3 linked regions of the Homo sapiens genome follow. The protein of the gene in region 1 interacts with the protein of each later gene in a biochemical or structural test. Each region holds a gene or a part of one and is shown in the gene's direction. Other genes may lie near its edges.

Region 1 (3,838 bases):
TTGAGAGTGTGATTTAGAATTCTCATCTACGTAACTAATGTTTGAATATTACCAAATTAAAAAGAGAATATTTCTTTTAATGAGCAAATATTTCTTTCTTTTAATAAGCGAATATTTTTCTTTTAATGAGCAAATACTTTGCATTAAGCCCAGCTTAGCATTATTCATTATGCCATTTTAGGCAGTGATATTTTAGAACAAAACCTTGGGAAACAAGATCTGGTATATATGTGCTGGTCATCTCATGTTTGGAAATCTATCCATTTGCTGGTAGGCACATCTTAATTTACCTAGTTATACCCATTACAGCATGATAGGTGCTGCTTTTAAGTGCTTAAAGTTATTTGGGGCCATTCAGAAATAATCAGCTTCCCTAACCTGTGAAAGTGGGTTATCAGTAATGTATATGTATGTCATGTCCCCTCTCGTTAAAGGAATAAACAAAATACTAAAACCATTGGAACTTTCTGGTGATAGTCAGATTTTTTGAGAACGTTGTGATAAATTTATAGGATAGCTTTGGATGTTTAAGTCTCAGCCAATGCATTGGTCATTTTTAATGGTTTTCTTAAATTTGTGCAGTGTCCATCTGACCATTTGAAAATGTACAGCCTGATGTACTTTGAAATTTTTCTGCATTTGGGATATATAGATAGATTAGATTAGATAGATAGTCTTGTCCTTCGCAGCAACATAGATAGAGCTGGAGGCCATTTTTCTAAGCAAAATAACACAGGAACAGAAAACCAAACCACATGTTCTCACTTACAGTTGGGAGCTAAGCAATGAGAACACGTGGATACTAGAAGGGGAACAACAAACACTGGGGCCTACTTGAGGGTGGAGGGTGGGAAGAGGGAGAGGATCAGGAAAAATACCTGTGGTGTACTTTACTTATTACCTGGGCAACAAAATTACCTGAACACCAAACCCCTGTGACACCCAGTTTACCTATATAACCTGCACATGTACCCCTGAACCTTAAACCCACACACACAAAAAAACGCTTATGGCAAAGATAAGTCTAAATTTTAGAAAGATTGGTTTTGAAGTGATGTGACAGTCTACTGGAGAAGAAACTGACCATACAGTTAGTTCTGCATTTCCTCTACAGGAATACTATTAGTAAAAGGAAACATAGAATGTTTACAGCTTTATCTCATTGTCAAAGAAGGAAGAGGTAGGACCTGGAACTATTGGTTTGAAATAAAATATTTTACTTTCTCATAGTGGGCCTGAAAGGAAATTAGGGCCTCACAATGCTTTGGCTTTGTGGACAGGAATTAGGAACTGTAGATATGGGGTGAAATATCTATATAGCTGGGTAGGGGAGGATATGGTCCTTTTTTTATAGAATAAAGACATGTCAATTGTATAGGTGAGAAGCCAGAACTAATGGAGGAATCTGCATTTAAATACCAGCGTTGAACAGGAAGAACACTAGGATTATTGGGTTGTAAATGACCTAGATTACTTTTGTGAGAAAATATTTTCAGAGATAAATTGGGTTGGCAGTGGCACAAAATCAGTTTGAGAGTAAACATGGAAATTGGACATTGGTTTAAAGTGTGTGGAAAAATATCTTGAGTGATAGGCTCAGGTATAAACCGGTATTTCGACTGTATTTGGAAGTTGGGAAATGCTTTGTGAAATATGTCAACATACTGGTTGCAAATGCTAGGAATTGGGCATAATATTGGCGGAAAATAAAAATCACAAGAATGTCATATCATTCATTACCTGTAAAATAAAAATGAATTAGTTAAAATTAAACTTTCCTCATTAAAAGCAACAAGCTTTGACTTTCTGGTTTTAAAATTTATTTGAAACTTAATATTTATTATTCCATAGCATTATGTGGTGATAATTACACGTCTTGGGGATATCACTTTTGTTATTTTTATTTTTAGGGAAGCACACTGAGAAAGCGGAAGATGTATGAGGAATTCCTTAGTAAAGTCTCTATTTTAGGTGAGTTGTAAAGTGTGTTAACTTTGCTAGTATGTGAGATACCCCTGAATTAGAATTGGATGGACTTGGGAAAAGCCTTCTGAAAGTATAATTGCTACTCATTCCCCCTGAAAAGACAGAAGGGCTGAAAGTCCTTCTGACTGTGGACATTCACAGTTATTTCCTCTGTGACTTCCCGTCTCTCTTGTTCCATCATTGAGTTGATTGGTTCAGAAAAGTGAGTACTTCCAACAATACATTTCCTCTGTGGAAAGATTAGGTATCATTTGCTGGCATCCTCTGAAAACATGCCAGAAGTTTGTTGAAATTTAGAGTAAAGCAGATTAATTGAAGATATTCTTTTGTGCATTTTGTTATGTGGACTTGGAGATGTTAGAACTTGTTCTTCATGAAAGGGGAATGGGGATTTTTATAAGGTAACAGGCTTCTGCCATTGTTTATTACAGTGAATTTTTCACCTCTTCTTTGTCTTTTCTTTGAATTGGTTACATATGCTTTGTGTTTTGGATAGTAGTTTGGCCTTTGGGAATAAAAGTTATTTTCTAGTTCTTTTTCATAAAGTAAACCAAGAATTTAAATAGATTAAATTATTTCTATGAAACTTTGGAACGATATGGATGGGGAAACTATGACTTTTGAGTATTGTAGTTGTAGGTTTGATTTGCATTGATGGCAATCTTCAGGAATACTTAAGGATTACATTTTCTTATTCCCTTGCCATTTGGTACAGTTGGTATAAATTAACCTAGCCACTGGGCTACCGAAGTAAGGATCTAAGGGCTATCTGCAGGCAGTATGAGAATCCTGCTCAGACTAGAGGTAATTGAAGACAGGTACCACTTTTAATCTGAGACACTACTAGAATGTTGAATGGGCATGGCTATTTGGTTGAATCTCTTTATACTTTCTTTTTACCTTTATAACAGCACCAAATAATACAGAGCAGTTATTTTGATTCTTGTCTTTCAGAGTCTCTGGACAAGTGGGAACGTCTTACGGTAGCTGATGCATTGGAACCAGTGCAGTTTGAAGATGGGCAGAAGATTGTGGTGCAGGGAGAACCAGGGGATGAGTTCTTCATTATTTTAGAGGTAAAGAACTCAGAATTTAATACTTGAATTTTAGAGGTAAAGAACTCAGAATTTAATACTTTAAAAAGTTGTACGCTCTAAGAGGGAAAGAGTGGGCTAATTCTGAACTATAGCTTTAGTTTTTAAGAATACCTGACCATTTTATTTTAAAATTATCTTTTACTTTGAAATGCTGTTGTTTGGTTTTCTGCCAGGTCACTATATTTTTAAATGAGTTTGAGTCAGAATTCTTGAAGGGCCCTAGACATGAAAAGCCAAATTCTAAAAACCATTTAACATAACAAACTGTGATGATTCTGCACTATTCTTGTTAAAATGCAAGTGTTTGGGCTATTTGGCAAATAAGGATTAAAGGTAATTATTTAAATTTGAAAAATTACTGTGTTTGTATATCTCCACATTCCATGGAAATGTATAGCAGATACTCTTGCTAAGCGGATCCAAGTGGCAGATTTCTATGAATGTGGCTCCATAGTTGCTAATTGATTTTATTTAAATCAGGGGTCAGGAGACTGTAAAGGGCCAGGTGGTAAGTAAGTTAAGCTTTGTGGACCATAGGGTTTCATTCGCAAAGTCTCAACTCTTGTCATAGTGCAAAAGCAGCCACAAATAATATGTAAATGAATGTATGTGGTATTTCAGTAAAGTTTGATTTGCGAAAGAGACAGTGAGCTTGGATTTAGCCCTTCATCTACAGTTTGCTAACCCAAGTGTGCACCCTTTAAGCACCTTAGCTTGATACGAAGAACCTCGCTAGCAGGAGATGCTGGTAAAAT
Region 2 (5,384 bases), on another chromosome or scaffold:
CTCAGAAAGCCCAGACCAGATGGTGGAGTAGGGCAGAAACTGGACAGGAGACCCAGGGCTACAGCCCTTGAAGCCCAGCTCAGGAGGAGAGAAAAACTGAGAGCAGCAGGGACAGTGGGAAAGTTGGCCCAGTAAGGAAGCAGCTGATGTGGCAAAGCCAACAACTATTGTACATCAGGATTTATTTTCCAAGGGCTAGTAAAGAGAACTTGGGCAACAGCCATAAGCTACATGACCGGAATGGAGAATCCAGAAGAGTAAACCAGAGTCTACTTTTTCTCAGAAAAGCCAAGACTGGGTCTGGATCACAGGCCAAACATCTCTGGGTTCCAGAGCCAGAGCGGGAAGTCCCTTTCCTGCAAGAAGACTAAAGAAGGTGCTGGTCCAACCCATGCTGGGTACTCAGAAAGAAGAGAAAACAATTGCAGTTTTTATCAGAAGAGAAGGAGCAGGATTCTACTCCTGGACTCATTCCTTGGGCAGAAATAGGAAGAGACAAAAAAAAAAAAAAAAAAAAAGGAAGAGGATAAAGTTCTTTCTGAGCACCAAAAACATTGAGACATTGGAATCAAAATGCAGAGAGCTCTGTGTCCTCCTTTGCCCTGCTGCCACCAAGCCTGTACCTACAGGAGGGGTTGCACGAATAAACGAATGTTCTTATCTCTGCATGTGTTCAAACAAAGGCTGAATGTCAGAACAGTTAAGATTGAATCAGGTGAACTTCCAGGTGCCCTCAGATCCTTCAATCCCAACAATTCTTAAATAGTTGACTTAAGTATCTACCTATAGATCTGTCTTTTTCAATTTTTGCCACAAAAATGACTCCTGGCTGTGAAGAATGGCAAAGAGGAAAGGCAGCCTGACTCCTGCAGCCTCACACGTGAGTCAGATGCAAGTTGAAGAGACAGATGACTCTGGCTTTGTCATACAGACATATCAGGATGTGTATGATACTATTTGTACAGGAAGATCATTTGCAGTGGAGGGAGTATTATGGCTAGAAAAGCTTGTTCCCACATTTTTGAGTTGAGGAAATCAGTTGAGTTGAACAGTGGAAAAGGGAGAAGGCCCTGGCTGATCACCATGATTTTCTTCCTTTAAAGTTTCTGTAGCAGGATCTTTGTATATATGCCTATGTGCTGGTATGGTGAAGAGGAACAGATTATCAGGAATCCGCCTTTGACAGAGACATTTGAATGCAAACATCATTGCTTGAAAGGTAGAGGAAGCCTTCTCCCCAGTCAGAGGTAAGCACACAAGTGGATGGATGCAGGGAACCTGCTGTTCCCCTGGACTCACATCAAGCTATGTAGGCCCACTCCAACACAGTGCAGTTGGGAATGGCCCCTTCAGGGTTTGGACAAGGAGAAAGCAGTCCCCAACCCCTGCATTGATGTGGAACCTGCCAAAGGATGATTTGCTTCTGGAGTGCCAAGTGCAGGCACACCAGGCAAGAAAATGCAACTGAGGAGCAGTGGCCTTTTGCTAATAAGACCATCGTCTCTGGAGTGAAAGGGCCGGTGGCTTGTTGGTTGTAGTGGCAGTCATATGTGTGCTCAGCATCTCCATTGCGTGGATGGCTGGATCAAGCTGCCTCTTTGGATCTTGGTTAATCAGTGGTGAATGGGTGGGTAAGTTTAGAATTCCGGCTAAATATGTCTGGCTTCAAAGACGTATTCTGCTCAGAAGCTCAGCTTCTGTTTCATCCTAACACTTGGCTGCTGAGTTGCTCTGTGTTTAAATTCTAGGCTTTAAGTGGCAGCTGTGGATCCACTCCTACCACCCCGCCATGTGGTTTTGCTATAGATAGTACAGTCTGCAGCTGGGGTAAAGTCAAGAGGACTCAGCCACGTGTTTCTAAGACTGTTTTTCAGGAAAACTCAGCAAGACAGTTTCGCTGTTGTTGCCCAGACTGGAGTGCAATGGCGCGATCTCAGCTCATCACAACCTCCACCTCCTTGGTTCAAGCGATTCTCCTTCCTCAGCCTCCCTAGTTAGCTGGGATTACAGGCATGCACCACCACGCCCGGCTAATTTTGTATTTTTAGTAGAGACAGGGTTTCTCCATGTTGGTCAGGCTGGTCCGGAACTCCCAACCTCAGGTGATCTGCCTGCCTCGGCCTCCCAAAGTGCATGAGCCACTGCGCCCAGCCAAACTCAGCAAGTTTTTATTGAGCATCTGCTGTGTTCTCTTGGTATAGCTCTCCCAGTAAGGAGTAAACATAATAATTCCTGGTGCTCTCCCGCTCCTTTCTGTCCCCTTTTGATTGCAGTGGACCTGCTCTGGTTCATCACAGGGAGAGAGCTTCATGCTATTTTAGAGACCCCACAAGGGATTAAAAAACTAAGGAAAGGCCGGGCACGGTGGCTCACGCCTGTAATCCCAGCACTTTGGGAGGCCGAGGCGGGTGGATCGCGAAGTCAGGAGATCCGAGACCATCCTGGCTAACATGGTGAAACCCCGTCTCTACTAAAAATACAAAAAAAATTAGCCAGGTATGGTGGCGGGCGCCTGTAGTCCCAGCTACCAGGGAGGCTGAGGCAGGAGAATGGCATGAACCCTGGAGGCGGAGCTTGCAGTGAGCCGAGATGGTGCCACTGCACTCCAGCCTGAGCGAGAGTGAGACTCTGTCTCAAAAAAAAAAAAAAAGGAAAAAATTACCTTCTAAAGTGGTATCATCATATTATCAGAAAGTTCTAATATCTTGTACTGATTGGTGGGAGCCAATGTCTCCTGGTTCTGCTTTGTTTTAGGGGACTCTACAGTACCACCCCAAGGGGCAGGGCTAACAGCCTCTTTCCCATTAGCCTTGTCTCCTCACTCCTGACTACAGCCTCCCTCTTAGGGATGTCTACATGGGACCCTCTTACACCAATCTATACCCATGATCAGCCTCAGGCAGACCACTGCGGTCATAGCACAGGACAACTTGCTCTACCAGGCAGGGCAGGACACCAGCACCTGGTCTAGACAGATCTTTGAAGTAGCTGTATTGGGAAAGGAAGGAAAATTGGCCCAATCCCACATTTCCCTTCAGAACCACTAACTGCTGCTGTCAGAGGAGAACTTGTTAAATAAAGTTCCCACAGGCCAGCCCTGTTTTTCCAGCAGCTTCCATTCTAACATACCATTATGGTCGAAAAATACATGAGTGTAAATGGTAATAATGAAACCTATTGTAAAAGTCCACTGGATATTTCTAGGGCTCAGGGCTAAGACACAGGAACCAATTAACCCATTTATGCTGGAGGTTACAAACTTTTTTGTGAAAAATCAGACTTTAATGATGATCTTGAGCAGTAGGATACAAATAATTCCTAAAAGGTTAGCGTCCCAATAATGGAACATGAGGCATAAGTGGGTTAAAGCATCTGCCCAGTAGCTAAGGGCCAAGTTCTGGTGGCACATGATCCTGGGGTTGGAGTCCAGGCTCTGCCACTCAGTAGCTGTACGTGTGACCAGGTTACTTAACCTCACCAAGCCTCTTTTTTTTTTGAGACGGAGTCTCGCTCTGTTGCCCAGGCTGGAGCGCAGTGGCATGATCTCAGCTTACAGGTGCCTGCTACCACGCCCAGCTAATTTTTTATATTTTTAGTAGAGACGGGGTTTCACTGTGTTAGCCAGGATGGTCTCGATCTCCTGACCTCGTGATCTGCCCACCTCAGCCTCCCTAACCTCACAAAGCCTCTTATTTCTTTATCTGTAAAATGGGTATAATAGTAATCTGTAGCACAAAGGGTGTTGGGCAAATTCTATAGAATAGTGCATGCGGTGTGCTGGGCCCTGGTGTGCCATCAGCACTTCCTAAAGGTGAACCTTTATTACAGTTCCAGCAGCATTCAAAATACCATGCCAATTCAGACTTTTTTAAAACAAATCTCATGCAGACATTACACAGTACTCTTCAGCCTCTGACCCTTTACCCTTTAGCAGTGGATCTCACTGTTATCCTGTGACTGTGTAATTTTGAAAGTGAATGGAAACACCTGATGATGAGTCAACCAGATCTGAAGTGGATTAAAGGGACACTGTCAGGGTGCTGGCACCCTAAGTGGGCCTTATACTAAAAAGCTTCAGTTCCTGCTAAAAGCACCTTCTGATCCTTGACTACAGTGGGGTTTGATGGCATACCTCCTTCCTGTGAAACCCAAGTCAAAATCCTTTTATCGGCCTGCCTGATTCTGTATCCTTGGACGCATGGCTGCTGTGGAAGTTGGCCCAAGATGTGTTCTTCCCAGCCTGAGATATCTCGTGGATCAGACTGACCGAAGCATCTGGGAGGTGGGCTGGAACAGTCCCAAGAAGGCCGGATTGTCCTCCCCCAAAATAAAGACAGAGATCATCCGTGTTTCTTCTCCTGTACGCGAACCTGGTGGATGCTCCAAAATCGAACCAAAACACTACCATGAATAAGAGATGACTGCACTCCTCTGACACAACTTCCTATTTTTGTCTTTGTTCTTCAAAAGGTCTAAACAGTTACTAAATCCTGTTATGCTGAAGGTGGGGAAGTTAGAAAAATAGAACATCTCCTGACAGGTAGAAGACGGGATCCTTGGAGGCGTTCCTTTGGGATTTCATTTTACCTCCATCTCGTTTGTTGTCCAGTTTCCTTTTACGAGGATTAAGCAGGCATCCTGCTGGCTAGAATCCTGTGGCTTCCCTGGAGCCTCAAATTCTTGTCTAACCACATTTCTAGTCATGGTTCCTGCAGGAGACATCCACTCAAACCACCTGTTACTGAGGCACCAAGCAACCCTAGAGGCAGTTGGCCTCTGGCCCTAGCAGGAGCAGGATCTCAGGCCATCCCACCAGGCAGCCAGCCTCAGCCCCTCACCGCAGCCTTGCAGAGTGGGCTCTGCAGAGAAGCCGATTTGTGGACAGTGCCACCCTCCATCCTGAGTCACATGGCTCATGTGGTTGCAGCCATTTTTGAGCCAGGAGGGGGCCCCTTCTAGGTGCAGCTGACCTGGGAATGCTAGCCAGAGCGGCCAGAGGAGAGGAGTTGGGGGAAGGAGAGAGGTATCTCTTGCTGGCCGCGGGATCTCATCTCCTTTTGTCTTGTTTAGGTTTCTCCTCTGCCTCCTACTTAAAGGTCCATGTTAAAACCCACCACGGTGTTCCCCTTCCCCAGGTCTCCAGGCACCAGGAGCCCATCCTGAATGGGGGAGCAGCGTTCCACTGCGCCAGGACCTATGGCAACAAAGGCAAGCGACCCCTTGCTCTGCACTTTGCTTCTCTGCGCAGACTGTGTTGTGGGGGCGCTGGGCTGGGCGTGGGGAGGCGGGAAGGCTGCCGGCTTTCTGGCTGCCTTGAGGAGACTCAGAGATCTGAGTGGCAGTGGCCTCCAGGACAAAAGTCACAGTGGGTATCTCACTCCAGG
Region 3 (5,384 bases), on another chromosome or scaffold:
GAAGTGGCTCTCACCAAACGCTGAATCTACCAGCACCTTGATTTTGGACTTCCCAGCCTCCAGAACTGTGAAAAATAAATTTCTTTTATTTTTATTTCTATTTTTTTTTGACAGAGTCTTGCTCTGTCGGCTAGGCTGGAGTGCAGTGGCAGTCTCAGCTCGCTGCAACCTCGGTCTCCCAGGCTCAAGCAATTCTGCCTCAGCCTCCCGAGTAGCTGGGATTACAGGCGTATGTCACCATGCCTGGCTAATTTTTGTATTTTTAGTAGAGACGGGGTTTTACCATGTTGGCCAGGCTGGTCTCAAACTCCTTACCTCAGGTAATCCACCTGCCTTGGCCTCCCAAAGTGCTGGAATTACAGGTGTGAGCCACCGCGCCCAGCCGAGAAATAAATTTCTGTTGTTTATAAGCCACTTCAGTCTATGGGAGCTTGTTATAGGAGTCCTAATGGACTAAGACAAGTGGCCTTTTATCATATTGAGGATGTTCCCATTCTATTCTTGGATTGCTGAGAGGTTTTTGTTGTTGTTGTTGTTGTTGTTGTTGTTTTTGAGATGGAGTCTTGCTCTGTTGCCCAGGCTGGAGGGCAGTGGCACCATCTCAGCTCACTACAGCCTCCGCCTCCTGGGTTCAAGTGATTCTTCTGCCTCAGCCCCCTGAGTAGCTGGGATTACAGGTACACGCCACCAAGCCTGGCTAACTTTTTTGTATTTTTGTAGAAATGGGGTTTTACCATGTTGGCCAGGCTGGTCTTGAACTCCTCACCTCGTGATCTGCCCGCCTTGGCCCCCCAAAGTGTTGGGATTACAGGCATGAGCCACTGCGCCTGGCAGAGAGTTTTTTTTTTTTTTTTTTTTAAATCATGAGTGGATGTTGATTTTAGTCAGGTATTATTACTGTATTTATTGAGATGATCATATGGTTTGTTTCTGTGTTAATGTGATGAATTACGTTAACTTATTTGCGAATGTTGAATCATCTTCCATTCTGTGGTTAAACCTCACTTGGTGATGGTGTATTATCTACTATCATTTTTATAAATTGGTGAAATTTTTTTTTTTTTTGCATCTATGTTCATGAAAGATACTTTTTCATATAATGCTGGTTTCATAGAGTTGCAAAGTGTTTCTTATATTTTTGAAAAAGAATTTATTAGGATTAGTATTATTTGTTTTACAATTTTTTTTAGAGTTTGCATGTGAACTCTTCTGGTCCTAGAGTTTTCTTTGCTGGAAGGCTTCAAAGGATAAGTCCAATTATCCTTTAATAAATACAGGATTATTAGGGTTATCTATTTCTTCTTGAAAGCTTTCGGTCTTTGTATGAATCACTTTCACTCACTAAGTGAGCGTTAGTAGTTTTTGTCTTTCAAGGCATTTGTCTTATTTCATTTATTCGTTGTCATAAAGTTGTTTCTTAATTATTTTAATGCCTATAACGTCTGTAGTGGTGTCTTTCCTTTCATTCTTGTTATTAGCAGTGTGACCTCTCATTTTTATTTGGTTCTAGGTTTATTTTATTAATCTTTTCAGAGTCAACTTTTTATTTGATTGCTTTTTTTTTAATTGTTAGTTTTATTGATTTCTGCTTCTTACTATTTCTTTCTATATGCTTTGGGTTTAAATTCCTCTATGTTAATTTATTAAGGTGTAAGCTTAGGTCATTGACTTGAGACCTTTTTTCTTTTCCTTCCAAGCACTGCCTGAGGTGCTTACACAAATTTGATGCACTGATTTTTTTTAAAGTTCTTATGTCACTTCCACTTTGACCCATGAAGGTTGCTGTTTAATTTCCAAATATTTGGTGATTTTGCATGTCTCTTTCTTTGTATAATTTATTTTAAATTCTTTGATATTTGTTTTATGACCAGAATATGGTTACTCTCAGTAAATGTCCCATGTACACTTCAAAATAATGTGTATTCTGCTGTTTAGCAGTGGAGTATTCTATATCAAGTTGATTGATGATGCTTGTTAGGCCTTCTCTTTCCTTACTGAGTTTTTGTTTGTTTCATTGATCATTGAGAGAAGAGTTGAAGTCTCCAAGTATAATGGTAAGTTTGTTTATTTCTCCTTTTCAGTTTTTGCATCATGTGTATTGAACCTCCTGTTAGGTGCATGTAAATTTAGGATTGTTAAAACTTTTTGGTGAATGAACCCCTTAATCATTATATAATGCCCTCTTTATCTCTGATAGTATTCCTCATTCCAAAGTCTACTTTATCTAATATTAATACAGCCTCTCCAGCCTCCTTTTAGTGTTTGTATATTATTTTCCATCCATTTAATCTGTCTTTTATTTAAAATGGGTTTGTTCTAGACAGCCTTTTTTAATTCATCTTGAAAAATCTGTTTTTACATTGAAGTGTTTAGACTATTTACATTTAATGTAATTTTGATGTAGTTGGATTTAAATATACAATCTTAATTGTTTTCTACTTATGTGCTCTCTGATGCCTATTTTTGAGTGCATTTTATCTTCACCATTGGCTCACTACTTACACTCAACTTTTCCTCTCTTTTAAAAAGTTAATTGGCTTCTCTGTGATTTATATTTTACATCTTTAATAATAGACCATATGGAAGCAATACTATACCACATTTTATATAGTGTCAGAGCTTTACAACAGTATATTTACAATGTATATTTACAATTTCTCCTTATCTTTTGTGCTATTACTGTTTTACCTTTTACAAATGCCATAAATGCATAATACCTTGTAATATTTGTTTTATTCCTGTGCTGTCTAGTATGGTAGTCATTAGCCAGTGTAGCTATTTAAATTTGAATTTAAAGTAGTTAGTACAAGTTAAATTAAAATTGATTTTCTGTGTTATAGTGGCCTCTTTTCCAGTGCTTATTCTTTCTGCATGAAGAACTTCCTTTCACATTTCTTGGACTTCAATTCTACTGGTAACAAAGTTCCAAAGATTGTTTCACAAATACTTTGTTTCACTTTTTCTTTTGAAAGATTTTGCTGGATATAAATTTATTGTTCACAGTGTTTTTCTAATATTAAGGATGCTATTTATTATCTTTTGACTTGCACAGTTTCAAATAAGAATTTGGCTGTGATTCTTATTTAGTTCCTTTTTTCTGCTGTCAGTATCAAATATGTTTTATCAGTGGTTTTTAAATTTTATTTTATTTGTTGTTTTTTTTTGAGACAAGGTCTCGCTCTGTTGCCCAAGTGGAGTGCAGTGGTACAAGCTTGTCTCACTATAGCCTTGAGCTTCTAGACTCAAGCAATTCTCCCACCTTAGCCTCCAAAAATCCTGCATTTGCAGGCCTGAGCCACTGTGCCCAGGCTGTCATTGGTGGTGGTAGCGGTTGTTTTTGAGACAGAGTCTCACTCTGTCGCCCAGGTTGGAGTGCAATGGCGCCATCTCAGCTCACTGCAACCTCTACCTCCCGGGTTCAAGTGATTCTCATGCCTCAGTCTCCCAAGTATCTGCGATCACAGGCTCCCGCCACTACGTCTGGCTAATTTTTGTATTTAACAGGGTTTCACCATGTTGGCCATGCTAGTCTCAAACTCCTGGCCTCAAGTGGTCTGCCCTCCTTGGCCTCCCAAAGTGCTGGGATTACAGGCATGTGTCATTTGGTTTTTTTGTTGTTGTTGTTTTGTTTTTTGTTTTTGAGACAGAGTCTTGCTTTGTCTCCCAGGCTGGAGTGCAGTGGCGCCATCTCGGCTCACTGCAAGCTCTGCCTCCCAGGTTCATGCCAGTCTCCTGCCTCAGCCTCCTGAGTAACTGGGGCTACAGGCACCCGCAACCATGCCTGGCTAATTTTTTTTGTATTTTTTTAGTAGAGACGGGGTTTCACCATGTTAGCCAGGATGGTCTCAATCTCCTGACCTCGTGATCCACCTGCCTCTGCCTCCCAAAGTGCTGGAATTACAGGTGTGAGCCACCATGCCCGGCCATATCATTCGTTTTTTATAGCAGGTTAAAGATGTTAACATCTTGGGATATGTGTACATTTTTGTGTGTTTTGTATTTATACTGCTTTTGTAGGGGGGAATCACTGAGCTTCTTGGGATTTATGATCTTTTAAATAATGTATGAAAAATTCACAGCATCTTTCTCTTCTAATGTTTCCACTGCCCGCGACACCCCCCCGCCCTTCCCCCCCCTCCCCCTGCTGGTTTGCTCTCTTTTTGTGGGGTTCCAGTTAAACTCATGGCAGCTCATTTAATGCAGTCCACAATTCTTGGAGGCTCTGTTTTGGTTTTTGTTGCTGTTGTTTTTTAACATGTTTCTTTTCAGTTAAATCACTTTTTATCTAGGCTTGGATCATTTCTTTTGACTTATCTTTTTCTTTTTTTTTTTTTGAGACAGTCTCAGTCCATCACCCAGACTGGAGTGCAGTGGTGTGATCTTGGCTCACTGCAACCTCTGCCTCCCGACTTCAAGCGATTCTCCGTACCTCAGCCTCCTGAGTAGCTGGAATTATGGGCGTGCACCACCACGTCTCACTAATTTTTTGTATTTTTAGTAGAGACGGGTATCACTATGTTGGTCAGGCTGATCTTGAACTCCTGACCTAAAGTGATCCACCCATCTTGGCCTCCCAAATTGCTGGGATTACAGGTGTGAGCCACTGAGCCTGGCCTGATTTATCTTGAGCTCACTAAAAGCTTCCTCCCCTAGTTTTTTAATGAGCCCATAGAATGCATTCTTCATTTCTGTTAACTGTTTTTTATTTTTTGCATTTCCATTTTCATCTCTCCTGAAATTTCTCATGAGTTGATGCATGTTCCTACCTTTGTGCTAGAGCCTTTAAAAGGGTAATCATAGTTATTTTAATTTTCTTCTCTGATAATTCTGTTAATTGCTTTATCTGGTTCTGTTTGTTGTTGTCTCTTGATAAAGAGGGTTTTTTCCTCCTCAGCTTTTTTGTCTTGTAATTTTTGACTGAATGGCAGACTTTATATGCAGAACAGTAGAGATTGTGGCAAATAATTCTTATGTCTGGATGTGAGTCTGCTTCTGCATCTGCTAGGCTTTTAGTGTGGTGTGGGGTTGATTCAATCTAATTCGTGATTGAGATGGGTTTGGATTTCGTTTCTGTGGTTGCATTGTGCTTAGTGTTACCTTGTGCTTAGTGTGACAGCTGAAGTGCCTGATTTTTCTAAGTGTTCCTACTTCACTGTCAACTTTCAGCTTTCTCTGTGTGCCCATACCTCAGTGGAGAAGTTTCTCCACACACTGTCATTATCCCCAGCAGTAGACTGTTGTTTCTTGATGCTGACTAGCCTGGAGATGGAGGCAGAGTTTTCTCTGTCTTCCTTATCTGTACTCAGTGTTACACAAGCCCTTTGTCTCTTGTTTTTGGGTATGGGCCAATGATGCTGTACCTTCTCTCCATGGTAGCCAAACTC

Evidence for each region. The genes of interacting proteins can lie anywhere in the genome.
Region 2: the proteins of PRKAR1A (region 1) and PATZ1 form a complex in vitro, tested with the Homo sapiens proteins (one study listed by BioGRID).
Region 3: the proteins of PRKAR1A (region 1) and PJA2 form a complex in vitro, tested with the Homo sapiens proteins (one study listed by BioGRID).

What each region holds. Positions count from the first base shown.
Region 1 is NC_000017.11:68,525,930-68,529,767, forward strand, and holds part of PRKAR1A (cAMP-dependent protein kinase type I-alpha regulatory subunit), read left to right. Parts: intron 1-1,910; coding exon 1,911-1,971; intron 1,972-2,940; coding exon 2,941-3,062; intron 3,063-3,838. UniProt on the Homo sapiens protein: Regulatory subunit of the cAMP-dependent protein kinases involved in cAMP signaling in cells.
Region 2 is NC_000022.11:31,328,611-31,333,994, reverse strand, and holds part of PATZ1 (POZ-, AT hook-, and zinc finger-containing protein 1 isoform long C), read left to right. Parts: intron 1-5,070; coding exon 5,071-5,208; intron 5,209-5,384. UniProt on the Homo sapiens protein: Transcriptional regulator that plays a role in many biological processes such as embryogenesis, senescence, T-cell development or neurogenesis. Interacts with the TP53 protein to control genes that are important in proliferation and in the DNA-damage response.
Region 3 is NC_000005.10:109,399,239-109,404,622, reverse strand, and holds part of PJA2 (E3 ubiquitin-protein ligase Praja-2), read left to right. Parts: intron 1-5,384.